Regions from separate parts of the Homo sapiens genome. Here region 2 is linked to region 1. A link means that fine-mapping ties the variant in region 1 to the expression of a gene that starts in the linked region. Tissue or cell type: whole blood. Region 1 holds a variant in brackets; the other region holds the start of a gene. All regions are shown on one strand. Distances are from middle to middle.

Region 1 (8,147 bases):
GCTAACATGGCAAAACCTCGTATCTACTAAAAAAAATACAAAAACTAGCTAGGTGTAGTGGTGTACGCCTGTAATCCCAGCTACTCGGGAGGCTGAGGCAGGAGAATCACTCGAACCCAGGAGGTAGAGGTTGCAGTGAGCTGAGATGGTGCCACTGTACTCCAGCCTGGGCAACAGAGCGAGACTCCATCTCAAAAATAATAATAATAGGCCGGGCTTGGTGGCTCACGTCTGTAATCCCAGCACTTTTGGAGGCTGAGGCGTGTGGGTTGCCTGAGCTCAGGAGTTTGACACCAGCCTGGCCAACATGGTGAAACCCCGTCTGTACTAAAAATACAAAAAATTAGCCAGGCATGGTGGCGTGTGCCTGTAACCCCAGCTACCTGGGATGCTGAGGTAGGAGAATTGCTTGAACCTGGAAGCAGAGGTTACGGTAAGCCGAAATGGCACTACTGCACTCCAGCCTGGGTGACAGAGTGAGACTCTATCTCAAGAAAAAAAAAATATAACAAGATATGAGGGCAAATGGGAGAGAACGTGGAGATAGAGTGAAGGAGAGTCTGCCCAGGGGCAGTGCTGGTGCTTGCAAAGCTTGGCTTGCTTTCCTGGGCTTCTTACCCTGCACTTGGGTTGATGGAGGCAAATCCCCAGGGGATGCTGTTGTTTGCTCCTCCACTCCTGAGACCCAATTAACGGTGACTAACTGCATTTGGGCCTGCTTCATCTGAGCAGCTCTGCACGCAGGGTCTTGAATCCACTTTGTGAATGAATATCTCCCACTGGCATTGATTTTGCTTTGGTGTTTATCCTGGGCCAGGCTGAGATTGTCACCTGGGCTTCACTAGCATTTCTGGAGGTCAGTGATAAAGGGGTTTGGGGGAGCTTCCAGTCCAAGCCTTCCCTTTCCTAAGGACCTTGGGAATCTAGGGAGGGATAAGGAGAAGAGTTAGGGTCTGGAGTTGAAGCTTGGATTGGGGTTTCTCTTTTATTCCCTGCTGAGTGCCCTTGAACAACCACTGAATGTCTCTCAGATCTCTTTTCTCTTCTACGAAATGGAGTGTAACTAAAAGTGCCGCAGACCCATCAGGCTGTGATTTCAAAGTAACCAAACTAGGGCTTGGAGCAGTGGTTCACGCCTGTAATCTCAGAACTTTGGGAGGCCAAGGCAGGCAGATCACTTGAGGTCATGAGATCGAGACCAGCCTGGTCAACATGGTGAAACCCTGTCTCTACTAAAAACACACAAAAAATTAGCTGGGTGTGATGGTGCACACTTGTAATCCCAGCTACTTGGGAGGCTGAGGTGGGAGAATCGCTTGAACCCAGAAGGCAGAGGTTGCAGTGAGCCGAGATCGCGCCACTGCACTCTAGCCTGGGTGACAGAGCAAGACTCCATATCAAAACAAAAACAAAGTAACCCAATTAACCTTCTATCCCATGGCTATCTTGCAAAGTGGATCCCAGCTACCTATAGGAGCCTTCTTTTTTTTTTTTTTTAAGGCAAAATGTTAGCATTTAGTAAATATAGATGGTAGGTACATGTGTCATTTTCTTTTTGTTCTTCTAGTTTTTGTACCTTTCTATGAGTTTCAAAATTTCAGAATAAACCATGAATTTTCACTTATCTATACAATGGAATTCTATGTAGTGATTAAAAAGAATGAAGGTAAAAATGTGTATAACAAAATTCCTATGATGGATCTATCTATCTATCTATCTATCTATCTATCTATCTATCTATCTATCTCACACATATGTATAAATAAACACATGCATGTATTTTTACATGGCAATTTCATCTTCTTTTTTTCTAAGGCAGAACCTTGCTCTGTCACCCAGGCTCGAGTGCAGTGGCACAATCTTGGCTCACTGCAACCTCTGCCTCCCAGGTTCAAGTGATTCTCCTGCCTCAGCCTCCTGAGTAGTTGGGGTTACAGGGACCCGCCACCATGCGCGACTAACTTTTTTGTATTTTTAGTAGAGACAGGGTTTCGTCATGTTGGTCAGGCTGTTCTCAAACTCCTGACCTCAAGTGATCCAGCTACCTCGGCCTCCGAAAGTGCTGGGATTATAGGCGTAAGCCACCGTGCGCAGTCCATTTTTATTTTTAAGATATGTATTTTGAAACACTGGCATCACAGGAAATTTTTTCTTTGTTTTTCATTTTTCAAATTTTGCAATTAAATATATTAATAATAATGGCTCTCTTGGCTGGGTGTGGTGGCTCACGCCTATAATCCCAGCACTTTGGGAGACTGAGGCAGGTGGATCACTTGAGGTCTGGAGTTCATGACCAGCCTGGCCAATACCATCTTTACTAAAAAAAAAAAAAAAAATTAACAGGGCTTCATGGCACACATCTGTAATCCTAGCTGCTCAGGAGGCTGAAGTAGGAGGATCACTTGAACCTGGGAGGCAGAGGTTGCAGTGAGGAGGCAGAGGAGGCAGAGTGCATGCCACTGCAGTCCAGGGTGACAGAGAGAGACTCGTCTCAATAAATAAATAAATAAATAAAATAATGACTCTCATTATTCACTAATAGCCACCAATATGAACTTATTGTTTTTTCAGCACAATGCTCAGATCACAAACATGATCCCTGTCTACTTCTTCCCCTGCCTCTGTCACAGCCACTTACCCCTGAGGACTTGCCCACCCACCCACCTTCGGACTGTCTGATCTGCCTTCCAGGCCACACTTCCTGCTGCCCGTGACCCTCGCAGATGCTGTCCTGGGGACGCAACCACCCCTCGACAGTGAATGCCACTGTGGTGCTGCCCACTCCTTTGCCATCTGGCCCAAAGCATAAGATGACTCTTCCCTGGTTACTCGAGGCACATCCAAAACCAGGCGTGGTGTGAGGCCATCAGAAGGCAGAGGTGCCCCAGGGAATAGCTCAAAACTACCCCACAGAGCCAGGCTCAGACCTTGCAGGGGTTTTTATCTGGCAGCAAGAATGGCTATATAAAATAAAAATACAGGGGTCCTTGTACAAACATTATTAAGACTTTAAAGATGGCGAATGCAAAGTGTTAAACCAAATGCAGGGCCCTTCTAAGTGCAGGGCGTTATGTGACTTTGTAGGTGGCATACTCATAAAGTTGGCCTTGTTTGGTGCTTTTCTGCCTCACTTCTCATCTGTGTTCATGTAGCCCTGGGCTGACACGCCCTACACAGCAATGGAAAAATTCAGGCGTCTCCATAGCAGCTAACCATGGTCCTTAAGAGAGGCGGAAGAGCTTCCCCTCATTCCTGTCTGAGCTCCGTCAGCTTCCTGAATCCTCATTCCCTGCTCCAATCAACCTCTTCCCTGGATGGTCCACAGTTGGATCATCTATTTCCTTCAGAGAAAATTCTACTCCCACCCATAGAGGGAGGTCTGGCTCTGCAGCCCCAATAAGCCTATCGCTTCATAGGGTGACAGCAGTTTGTTTCCCAAGTCCAGTCATTAATAACCCAAATCCAGTTATTTAGTCTTAAATGACACTATGTGTGAGGCACCAAGAGGCCAGTTCAGGTGGGACTGTGACAAGTTCTCTTCATTTCTTTTCAGGCACTTCTCATTAAAGATTTGAAAATGCTGGGACTCAGCCTTGCCCTGGATTACCATGGGACATCTGTTGTTTTTGCATGGCTAGCCTCCAGATGACACCATCCCATTTTCCCTGGAAACCATTGTCTTCCACTCTTTTTTTTTGAGACGGAGTTTCGCTCTTATTGCCCAGGCTGGAGTGCAATGGTGCAATCTCGGCTCACCGCAACCTCCGCCTCCCGGGTTCAAGTGATTCTCCTGCCTCAGCTTCCTGAGTAGCTGGGATTGCAGGCATGCACCACCACAACCGGCTAATTTTGTATTTTTAGCAGAGAAGGGGTTTCCC[C/T]ATGTTGGTCAGGCTGTTCTTGAACTCCCGACCTCGGGTGATCCACCCGCCTTGACCTCCCAAAGTGCTGGGATTACAAGCATGATCCACCACGCCCGGCCCATTTTCTTCCACTCTTGATCTACAGGGCTTGGGTGGGATTGACTCCACCTTCGGGGTGGACATGTGACCCGAGCTTAAGCCGTCCATCATGTTCTACCCTCTGGCTATAGTATTGGTTCAGGGGTGGGCATGTGGCAATTTCAGTCTCCAGTGAGTATTGGGTCTAGGACTTTGTTTGGAATTGGGAGCTGTGAGGATGTGATCCTGGGGCTGCTGTCAATAATGGGGCCCCACGGGGAGAAGCCTGCCTGTGAATGGAGCCAAGCCAGAGAGAAAAATGAGAGAGAGAGAGAGACAGAGAGTGAGGCCGAAGTCACTGAGAGTCCCTGGGACCAGCTGAGCTCGATGTCAGCTGCACTCCCTAGGCTTCTCTGGTACAGGAACCAATGAGTTCTCTTTTCGGCTTAAGCCAATTTGAGTTGGGTTTTGTCACTGGAAATCGAGAGTCCTGATCACAAGATTTCCCCTTTTGCAGTCAAGAATAATGCCTGTTCTCTTTACACACAGTGCTGGGGAATTCAACCGAAATGATTTATATGCAAGTTTTCTGCAAGTTGGAAAGTGCTGTTGGAATGGAATGACCTAGAATGTACAGCTGGCTAACAGCAGAGACAGGGATAAAGCTTGGTTCTTTGGTACTCAAAGCCCAGTTCTCTTTCTCTGCTAATGAGCTGCCTCCTACTCTAAGAAAATCAGTGAGCAGGGCAGAAGGTGGTCAGGACAGGTGGTGGACAGGGCAGGTAGTGAACAGGATGAGGGTGAAGAGGGAAGGCAGTAGACAAGACAGGTGGTGGACAGAACAAGTGATGGATGGGGCAGGTGGTGGATGGAACCAGTGGTGAACAGGACAGGTGGTAGACAGCACAGGTGGTGGTCAGGACAGGTGATGGTCAGGGCCTATGCTATGCTGGTTCTCATGTGCCTGCTGTCTGGAGGAGACCTGGTTTCAGGGAAAGGAGAGTGAGGGTCCTGGAGGACATGCCTGCAGAGCTCACGTGGCGTGCCCCTCTGTTTTCCCAAGCCTCTCTTTGTGTGCCACACTGTCATCCCAAGGGCTGGGATCCTGGTGTTTTGGGTTTGGTTGAGTGTTTTTCAGCCCATGTCTTTGGAGATGGTCATGGAAGGGATCCAGCTTAGTTTCTATGTGTTGGACTCTGCCACAATTGGACAGGGGTCTTTGCACTGGGCACTTCTCAGAAGTGCAACAGGAGTCTCTTCCTTTCTTGGACATGGGCTTGAAGGGATCCCTGTGTTGAGGGGCTCAGAGCCCTCTGACCTTCAGAGGTGGGGCCCCATCCTGGGACTTTGGGCTTTATAACCCCTCAGATCCGTCAATCAGCCAGGAGCCAGAAGTTGGCAGCCTCGAGAGCTGCAAGCTTTTGACCTGGTCCCCAAGGGCTCAGCTTCCCACTATATGGGACTAGAGGTCTTTGACCTTCATGGGCACCAAGGTCCACGTGGCACACTGAGCTGCAGTCAGATGTGGCCTGAGCCATCTCTGCCTGTGCCATCCCTCTGATCCACCCAGCCTGCTGGACGCAGCTCCTTGGGGAATGAAGAGTGGGTTTTGTTCCTGGGGACTGGCATGTGGTGCGCAGTAAATATTTGCTGAATTGATTCTCAGGATTCTCAGGCAGAAATATCAGATTTCAAGGGGAGCATGTGAACAGGGGTGGTGGTGGGGTATAAGGAAATGTCCCCAATCACCTTTCTACTCTTCCATGGTTCTTGCCCCTGAAATCCAAGTCCCTAAGGCTCTGACACAGGCCTTGAGTGAGATGGAGGAAGAAGTATGAAATGACAACTCTGGCGATGATGAACGGAACATCCCTTCCCTTTCCCTCCCCATAACCAGGTCAAGTCCAGGGAATTCTCAAGCTCAAAGGCAAGGAGTTCTTAAAGGATTGCAGGAAATACAGACCTGGAGAGAATAGAATGACTGTCCGGCCCAAGGCAGTTAAATATATACAGCTGAGGGAGGCAGAGGTGGGGCAAGGGGTAGGGGAGAGGACCTAAGGGTAGAAGGGGCCAGTGGGGTCGTAGATTGAGGCTGTGCCTATAGTGTAGCCAGCTACCAACTCATGTCAGCCTGATAGCATTAAACATTTGAATCCTCCAAGTTCCATTTTTTCCCCTGGATTTCATGCTTAGCGAACAAAAAAATCTCCTGATTATAATGTGGCTTGGCATCTAGGGCAATACATGTCTTGTGAGTCTGATTAACATCAGCCTGACTGGAGAGATGGAGCCACTCTTGAGTGAGTGAGCAAAACCAGCTCTACAGAGCTGAAGGCCACACAATGGACTGCTGTCAATGCCCTAAAGTAGTGACCATCTGTGACCCTCTTGGTGAAGCCCCTTGTCCTCTCCTGACTCTATCCCTCTGCCTGTCTACCTTGCTTGGATTTGACTATAGGCAAATTTCTTAATGTCTCCATGCCTCAGTTTACTCATCTGTAAAATGAGATTAAAATAGGTTTGTTGTAGGATTAAGTGAGTTAAGAGATGCTAAGTGCTTAGAATATTACATGGCATGCAAGTGCTATCTAAGGGTCTGCTGTAATGATTCAGGCTTCCACAATGCTGGCTATGACCTTGAGCAAGTCAGTTTTTTCTTTCTTTCTTTCTTTTTTTTTTTTTTTTTGAGACAGAGCCTTGCTGTGTCACCCAGGCTGGAGTGCAGTGTCGCAATCTCAGCTCACTGCAACCTCCGCCTCCTGGGTTCAAGCAATTCTCCTGCCTCAGCCTCCTGAGTAGCTGGGATTACAGGTGCCCGCCACCACACCCAGCTAATTTTTGTGTTTTTAGTAGAGACAGGGTTTCACCATGTTGGCCAGGCTGGTCTCAAACTACTGACCTCATGATCTGCCCATCTCAGCCTCTCAAAGTGCTGGGATTACAGGCATGAAGCACCATGCCCAGCCATCTGGCCTTTGTTTCCCTGTCCTATTAATATGGACATTAATTAGTTTAATAGTAACATCTTCTGGAAAAAGCATATGTTAAGTATAAAATGTCTTGGCATATATTAAAGTGTTTCGCAAACTGTAAAGTGCTGCAGAAATAAACCATATGCTTATTTGGATAATGTATTGGGAACAATTATTAGTCTTACTGGGTCCCTTTGGATTATAGTGCAGAGATGATTTTTAATATTTCTTACCTGATAACCAAATGAAACCTGAGGTGGGACCCAGAGAAGGAGGAAGGATCTGGGTAAAGGCATGGGGGAGGCGAGGAGGGAGACTCCAGGGGCTGAAAGGGGGTGTCTGCCTCATCTGGACTGTGTACCAGACTTTATTCCCTTCCAAAGCTTACACTGCTTCTCACTGTGAGCTTGGGGAAGGTGTTACCAGTTCCTGACTCTCCCCTAGGGGTACTGCTCTAATAAATGACAGTTCCGATTTTTAATAAACAGAGTTGCTGGGAGAGGGTATGAATGCAAAATTCAAACAGGCGAGGGAGGAAGAAGAGGAGGAGAAATGTTTACTTTGCCTTTTTTTTTTTTTTTGAGACAGAGTCTTGCTTTGTTGCCCAGGCTGGAGTGCAGTGGTGCGATCTCGGCTCACTGCAACCTCAGCCTTCCGGGTTCAAGTGATTCTCCTGCCTCAGCCTCCCAAGTAGCTGGGGTTACAGGCGCCTGCCACCACGCCCAGCTAATTTTTGTATTTTTACTAGAGACAGAGTTTCCTCATGCTGGCCAGGCTGATCTTGAACTCCTGACCTCAGGTGATCTGCCTGCCTTGGACTCCCAAAGTGCTGGGATTACAGGACTAAGCCACTGCACCCAGCCTGCTTTGCTTTTAAAAGGCTCATAACAAAAGCTAAGGGGAGACAGAGAACAAAAACGGATGATCACTGGCCCTGCCCACAGCTCATGAGAGGAAGGGTGCGTATGTGTGCATGTGCAGGCATGTGTGTGTGTGTGTGTGTGTGTGTCTGTGTGTCTGTGTGTGTGGTGGCCAGGGGCAGAAGGCTAGCAAGTAAGAGAAAATTTGAACTTAAGCACAGCTTGGTTTCAGATACCTAAAAGCATGTGCATTTGCAAAAGCACAAATGATTAAATAGCATCCTCATGTTGATGGGTAGAAACTGTCTGCTAATAAGCAAATGAGAAGGTGCTAATAAGCAAATGAAAAGGCGCTGATAAGCAAATGAGAAGGGAGG
Region 2 (8,130 bases), 31 kb before region 1:
CTCTGGGGCCTTTCTTATAAGGGCACTAATCCCATTCAGGAGACCTAGTTACTCTCCTGACCTAGTTACTCTCCAAAGGCTCAACCTCGTAATGCCATCACATTGAAGGTTAAGTTTCAACGTATGAAATTCGAGAGACACAAACTTTCAGACTCACTCTTTGGAGACGCCTATTTTTCTCAGAAATAAGCTTTGCCTGTGCCTGAATTCCTGGACAAGAACTTGGGTAAGGCCCAGATTCCCATTCCATACACTGCAGAAGAGGGGCATGAGATCTGGAAAATGTTCAAGGCTGGTGGTATCAGTTACCTGCTTAATAAGTCAGTTTTCAGTGCATGATAAAACATTCTTTCATTCTGAAATTTGTTTTATTTCATTTTATTTTATTTTTGAGACAGAGTTTCGCTCTCGTTGCCCAGGCTGGAATGCAATGGTGCGATCTCAGCTCACTGCAACCTCTGCCTCCCAGGTTCAAGTGATTCTCCTGCCTCAGCCTCCTGAGCAGCTGGGACTACAGGTACCTATCACCATGCCAAGCTAATTTTTTGTATTTTTAGTAGAGACAGGGTTTCACCATGTTGGTCAGGCTGGTCTTGAACTCCTGACCTCAGGTGATCCGCCTACCTTGCCCTCCCAAAGGGCTGGGATTACAGGCGTGAGCCACTGCACCCGGCCAGGAAATTTGTTTAAAAAACAACCTTGGAGTGGACGCCCTGGTGACAACCAGCTCCGGGATTCTCTGCTTTATCAATTCTTCATTGTCAGCACTGAGCAGGATCTAAGGGCTGTTTTCTCTCTCTCTCTCTCTCTCTCTTTCTCTGCCCCCTCCCTGACCCTGACACAAGGCAGCATGGCTTATATGAACCAGGCCTGGGTTTGAATCTTGGCTCTGCCACTTACTAGCTATGTGACCTTGGACACGTCACTTGCTCTCTGCGTCTCAATTTCTTTGAAAAATGAGAAACGCATCACCTTTCCTCTAGATTTATAGTGAGGATTCAATGTAATAATGATGGAAAATATGAAACATAGCACAAGTGGTTGGGAAAGATAAAGTGCAATTGGAAGTGAGGGGAACTAAAAGGGCTCAGGAATGGTTTCTGAGAAGAATTATGATTTATAAAAACAGAGACTGGTTCTTAGGTGCTAGACAGAGTCCCCTAGCAGAGCACACAAGGCCAGGGCAGAATGACAGGTTCAACCATTCACGTACATACATGCACACACACACATACATACATACATAGGTGCGTTAGAGCAGGGAGAATCTCAGATGACCTGTCTAATCCCTGCTTTCACATATGGGGACAGGGAAGCCCAGGGATATAACTGGCTTGTGTATAGGTCAATGGTCAAACCAGGATTACAGGTTCAAATGAGTTTTTGAGGACGCAAGGCCTGCAGAAGAGCCGATTCCCCTGTATTCCCCATAGGCACTTGGTTAGAGGAGCAGCTACTCAGAACCACTTGGCGAATTCTCTGCTTTTTCTTTTTGAGACAGTGTGTTGCTCAGTTACCCAGGCTGGAGGAGTGCAGTGTTGTGACCTCGGCTTACTGCAACCTCTGCCTCCCGGGTTCAAGCAATTCTCTTGCCTCAGCCTCCTTAGTAGCTAGAATTACAGACATCCACCACCATGCCCGGCTAATTTTTTGTATTTTTTAGTAGAGATGGGGTTTCGACATGTTGGCCAGGCTGGTCCTGAACTCCTGACCTCAGGTGATCCGCCTGCCTCAGCCTCCCAAAGAGTTGAGATCACAGGTGTAAGCCACCGTGCCCGGCCTGAATTCTCTGTTCTTGTTTCAAAGGGGAATCCTTCTTGGGGAGGCCAGGTCTGGGAGAGGCCACGATCAGAGGGTCTGGCCACAGGCAGTTCTAACAGACAGTGCTGTTCCCTCCTTGTTGCTCATGCCCAGGAGAAGAAAGCTTACCCCACCACCCTCGATGCATCTGCCCCTTGTTTTTCAGGGCAGCCCCCATTCCTGGTCCTTTTTCCTGGAAGCCAATGGCTTCCCTACTGCAGAGGGCTGATTGCTCTCTGAGTATCTGCATGGTGCCCTGGGCAGAGGACCTATTGACATGCAGCAGGGACCAAAGGGCTGGCCAAGCCCTCACCCCGGATTCTTGACCTACTTTATGGTCTGCAGATATGTAAAGCGAGAAGCCATCTCTGGCCACGTCCTGGAAAAGCCATGGCTTATCAGCTGCTGTGGTTTTCTGTGCAAATAACCCTCTGCACACCCACTCATTCCTGATTAGGGTGTGAGGGGGTTGCGTCCCTCTTTGAGACTCACTCCCTTGTCAAGATGTCACAGGGTGTATGTGACACATGGCAAAAGTGGCTCCAGGTGCAGAAGGTGAGAAAGGTCTAATCCTTTTATTTATTTTTATTTATTTATTTATTTTGAGATGGAGTTTCACTCTTGTTGCCCAGGCTGTAGTGCAATGGTGCGATCTCAGCTCACTGCAATCTCCACCTCCTGTGTTCAAGTTATTCTCCTGCTTCAGCCTCCTGAGTAGCTGGGATTATAAGCACCCACCACCACACCCGGCTAAGTTTTGTATTTTTAGTAGAGACGGGGTTTTGCCATGTTGGCCAGGCTGATCTCGAACTCCTGACCTCAGGTGATCCACCTGCCTTGGCCTCCCAAAATGCTGGGATTACAAGTGTGAGCCACTGAGTCTGGCCCTTCCTAATCCTTTTATATCCCCAGTCCCGACCCTAGGGACTTGCTGGGGTCTTGATGGGAAAGGAGAGATGGGGGATGGACATGATTGTCAGAAGGAGGAGAGTGAGGGGCAAAACTGGTCCTTCCTTTCTTCCTTCCTTCCTTCAACAAATAGTTATAAGGTGAGGGGTGGAGCGAGGGGATAATAGTCCTGAGCAATGAACTGGTTTCCTCAGGTAGACCCCCTGGTACAATGGACAGGTTTCTGGAAGATTCCAGATGTAGGTATCCCTGGGATCTCACCTGGTGGGCTGGGGTACAGCAGTAGGAGCTTCCTTCGTGTTCTCAGGACAAAGCGCCTCTTGTCAGTGGGCCAGTAGTTCCCTGCTTGCATCTCCCTTCTCTCTGAACCTCTCTGTGCGTGCGTGTGTGTGTGTGTGTGTGTGTGTGTGTGTGTGTGTGTTTAAAGAGACAGCGTCTGCTCTGTTGCCCAGGCTGGAGTACAGTGAACAGTGGCTCAATCATAGCTCACTGCAGTTTCGACCTCTTGGGCTCAGGTAATCCTCAGGCCTTAGCTTCCCAGATTGCTTGGACTACAGGCATGCATGACTCTGCAGAACTAATTATTATTATTATTGTTATTATTTTTGAGACAGAGTCTTGCTCTGTTGCCTAGGTTGGAGTTCAGTGGTGCGATCTGGGTTCACTGCAACCTCTGCCGCCTGGGTTCAAGTGATTCTCCTACCTCGGCCTCCCGAGTCACTGGGATTACAGGTGAATGCTACCACGCCCAGCTAATTTTTGTATTTTTTAGTAGAGATGGGGTTTCACCATTTTGGCCAGGCCGGTCTCTAACTCCTGACCTGGAGTGATCTGCCTACCTTGGCCTCCCAAAGTGTTGGGATTACAGGCATGAGCCACCATGCCTGACTTTTTTTTTTTTTTTTTTTTTTTTTTTTTGTGGAGATGAAGCCTTGCCATGTTGCCCAGGCTGGTCTTGAACTCCTGGCCTCAAGTGATCTTCCTGCCTCAGCCTCCTAAAGTGCTGAGATTACAGGTGTGAGCCACCGTACCTGGCCTTGTAGTCTGGGGTTGGATACCCAATCTCCTCATAGCTGCCTTCCAACCTTTGGTCTGGAATCTCTCCTCTGGCTTTCTGACTTTGGCCACAAGTGCCCCTCAATCCTCTTGAACTTCTGGCCTTCTGGGCTCCCAAGCATCTGGCTACACCTGAAGCTCCAGGTTTAGGACATCGTGTCTATCAGCCGTGGCTCTCCAGGACCCCTCTGGTGGAGCCGCGTGCCCCTGCCCCCAGCCAACCCACCAGGTTTGGAGGATTGGATAAGGGCTGGCCAGACCCAGTGGATCTGTCTGCAGGTTTCCACATGACAGAGGAGCCACGAAGTTCTCTTTTTAGAGAACCCACGGTGGCTGTGTACAGAGAGGTACTTCTCAGAAGCTGATGATTCCTGTGACCCCTTGCATTGTCAACTGCCTCGAAATTTCACCCTTTCCACCTCCTTCCTCTTTTTTTTTTTTTTTTTGTTTTTGTTTGAGACAGAGTCTTGTTCTGTCACCCAGGCTGGAGTGCAAGTGGCACGATCTCGGCTCACTACAACCTCCGCCTACTAGGTTCAAGCGATTCTTCTGTCTCAGCCTCCTGAGTAGCTGGGACTACAGGTGTGCGCCACCACGCCTGGCTAATTTTTGTATTTCTAGTAGAGACGGGGTTTCACTATGTTGGCCAGGCTGATCTTGAACTCCTGATCTCGTGATCCGCCCGCCTTGGCCTCCCAAAGTGCCAGGATTACAGGCCTGAGCCACGGTGCCCAACCAACCACCTCCTTCCTCTTTTAGTCTCTTTCACCCATGGGAAGTGACTGAAGGAGGAAGTTCAAGGGCGAGAGTGAGTACCAGCAGAAGGCTGGGAGTCTGTAGTTTGTTCCTGCTGCCAGGCTCCACTGAGGGGAACGGGGACCTGTCTGAAGAGAAGATGCCCCTGCTGACACTCTACCTGCTCCTCTTCTGGCTCTCAGGTGAGCGGGCCTGGGTCTGTCTTCTTGGGGAAGCTTAGCAAGCAGGAGGAGGTGGCTGAGAGAGGGAAGAAGGGACCCGGCCAGAAGGTGTCCTTAATGGCATGAGCCTTGTGCGTTTCATCCACATACCCACCATTCACCTAGCATTTCCGTTGCCAAGGCAGGAATACAGGGCATGACCTTCATAATGAAGCCAGTGCAAGGCAGAATTCCTGACCCCCAGGGGCTGATCATGTGAAATGGACAGACTGTAGGCCCCGCCGGCCAGGGAAAAGCAGAGGAGGAACATGGGCTGCTCAGGAGAGCAGGCGACTGCCTGATCCTGGACTGGGTGATCTGTCACCTGCGTGGAGGTGTTCTGAGCAAGGGCAGGCGTCAGGGAAGAGGTGAGGCTGGAGGACTTTGAAAGGAGGGAAGAGGGAGTTTGCTGGGCAGAGAGGGAGTGGTGGTTCTAGGCATTTGGGGCAGAAGGAAATAGTAGAAGTTGCTGAGGGACGGAAAGGTCAAGAGGAGATAAGACTGGCAGGGACGTAGAGGAAAGGAGGGACTGAGATGTGGGCAGAGCCAGAGGGCAGGAGACACCTTAAGTTGGTGCATACAATTTTTATTAAAAATGAAGGGAGGCCAGGGAAAGAGGCTCATTCCTGTAATCCCAGCACTTTGGGAGGCTGATTGCTTGAGCTCAGGGATTCGAGACCAGCTTGGGTAACATGTGGAAACCCTGTCTCTACAAAAAGTACAAAAATTAGCCAGGTATGGTGGCATGTGCCTATGGTCCCAGCTACTTGGGAGGCTGGAGGCTGAGGCATGAGGATCACTTGAGCCCAGGAGTTGGAGGCTGCAGTGACCTGTAATCACACTACTGCCTTCCAGCATGGGTGACAGAGCGAGACTCTGTTTCAAAAAAAAAAAAAAAAGAAAAAAGAAAAAAGAAAAAAAAAGAAAGAAAACAAAAAAATAATTTCAAGAAGTGAGAAGTGATAAGTACTGTGAGGAAAACAGAACAAGATGATATGTTACAGTGGGACCCAGGTAGGGGGATGCTGTAAGTCAGGTGGGCTGAAACAACCCCCCTGAAGAGGGTCCCAGATGCCTGTCCGAGCCGAGACCTAGGAAAAGGATCAGACACAGGATCGGGACCAGCTTTCCAGGCACAGGGAACAGTAGATACGAGGGCTCTTGTGTAGGAATGAGCTTGGACTGGGCACGTCTGAGGAAGAGGGAGGTCAGCACGGCTTTGCCTCATGCTTCAGAAGATCCTGGTGGGACAGATTGGAGAAAAGGTCTTGGGGAAGAAAGTGACTTGTCCAGGACTGCTAGGCTGGTACAGGAAGAGCAGGGAGTGGCTCATGGACACTTGGCCCCGAGTTTCAGCATGTAAGTGGAGAAGGCAGACTTTGGGTGAGATGTTATGAAATGCATTGGCACAGTGAGACCAGGACAGGTATGGCTGCTTTTTTTCTGACACCTGGAAATGAGAGAATTTGGTAGTGAGCAGATGTGAGAGTCGTGTTGGGAGTGGGAGTGGTTTGGGACCTCTGTCTGAAGTGGGCAGAAAAGCCAGCAGGCACAGCTATGGGCGCCAACATGGAGCCCGGATACCACTGTGAACCTGCATGCATCAGCTCTTGCCAGCCTCTCCTGCAGAACTTCCACCCACAAGCAGCAAGTGTGCTTACCCTGTTTCCCTCTTCTAAATAATTTATCGTTTTAAAACACCCAAGAAAAAAAATACCCATCCGGAAGTTTGTTTTCTGTGAGAAAGGAAGGTTTTTTATTTTTTTTGAGTTGGGGTCTCAGTCTGTTGCCTAGGCTGGAGTGTGGTGGCATGATCATAGCTCACTGCAGCCTCAACTCCTGGGCTCAAGTGATCCTCCTGCCTTGGCCGTCTGAGTTGCTGGGATTAAAAGCATGAGCCACCGTGCCTGGCAAGAACAGATTTTTTGTTTTTTTTTTTGAGACAGAGTCTCGCTCTGTCACTCAGGCTGGAGTGCAGTGGCGCGATCTTGGCTCACTGCAACCTCTGCCTCCCAGATTCAAGTGATTCTTCTGCCTCAGCCTCCCAAGTAGCTGGGATTACAGGTGTGCCAGCATGCCTGGCTATTTTTTTTTTTTTTTCGTATTTTTAGTAGAGATGGGGTTTTACCATGTTGGTTAGGCTGGTCTCGAACTCCTGACCTCAAGTGATCCACCCGCCTTGGCCTCCCAAAGTGTTGGGATTACAGGCGTGAGCCACCGCGCCCAGCCTCACTGTGCTTTTTTTCCATAAGTCTTTATTGTTTCTGTTAAAGTTATTCCTAGGAATTTAATACACTTTTATTGCTAATGTAAATGAGCACTTTTCTACTTTACTTTCCAACTATTTATTAGCAGTTTATAGGAAAGCCATTGATTTTTACATGTTTATTATTTAGCCACTCTATTAAATTCAATTATGAATTAAAATACTTTTTCATTTAAAATTAAAAAATTTTCTCTAACTTTTTTCCCTTTTGATAATTATACATTTTATGTTTTTCCTTATCTTCCTATATTGATTAGAATTTCCAGGCTGGGCACAGTGGCTCACGCCTGTAATCCCAGCACTTTGGGAGGCCAAGGCAGGCGGATCACAAGGTCAGGAGATCGAGACCATCCTGGCTACGGTGAAACCCCATCTCTACCAAAAGTACAAAAAATTAGCTGGGCGTGGTGGTGGGCGCCTGTAGTCCCAGCTACTCAGGAGGCTGAGGCAGGAGAATGGCGTGAACCCGGGAGGCGGAACTTGCAGTGAGCCGAGATTGAGCCACTGCACTCCAGCCTGGGCGACAGAGCCTGACTCCATCTCAAAAAAACAAACAAACAAAAAAGAACTTCCAGAATCATGTTATTATATATATTGGGAATTCATGTTTTGTTTATGATGTCAATAGGAATGCCTATAGTATTTCACTGTTAAGAATAATTTGGCTGGTGATGCATGATGGCTCAAGCCTGTAATCCCAGCACTTTGTGAGGCTAAGGCAGGCAGATCGGTTGAGTCCAGGAGTTTGAGACCAGCTTGGGCAACAAAGTGAGACCTTGTCTCTCCAAAAAAAAAAATACTAGCCTGGTATGGTGGTGCATGCCTGTGGTCCTGTCGTCCCAGCTACATAAGAGGTTACAGCAAAAGGATCACTTGAGCCCAGGACTTGAGGCTGCAGTGACCCATGTTCGTACCAGTGCACTCCGGCCTGGGTGACAGGCGACCAAGCAAGACTCCATCTCAAAAAAAAAAGAATAATTTGGCTCTTGGTTTATGGTGTCCTAAAAGTCTTTTTAATTGTGGAAAATAAAATGTACAAAAAAGTGCATAAAACTTCAACATCCATGTTAACAAATTATTATAAAGTACATATGAATGTCTCGCACTAAGTGTGGTGCTTGCTGAGGTTTTTGATAGACAATC

The links. PIP is the estimated chance that this variant, and not a neighbour inherited with it, causes the effect.
Region 2: CD300LF starts here. The variant in region 1 is fine-mapped to the expression of CD300LF in whole blood (TOPMed, PIP above 0.99).

What each region holds. Positions count from the first base shown.
Region 1 is chr17:74,678,455-74,686,601 of GRCh38, reverse strand. It overlaps a transcript of RAB37 not described here. Among named protein-coding and RNA genes, the nearest start is that of RAB37-AS1, 4.9 kb to the right of the region's middle. The variant C/T (reference allele first, on the strand shown) is at 3,879.
Region 2 is chr17:74,709,397-74,717,526 of GRCh38, reverse strand. CD300LF (CD300 molecule like family member f) reads left to right here and starts at 4,604. Exons shown (of 7, transcript NM_139018.5): 1 at 4,604-4,703. The coding sequence starts at 4,661. It also overlaps a transcript of RAB37 not described here.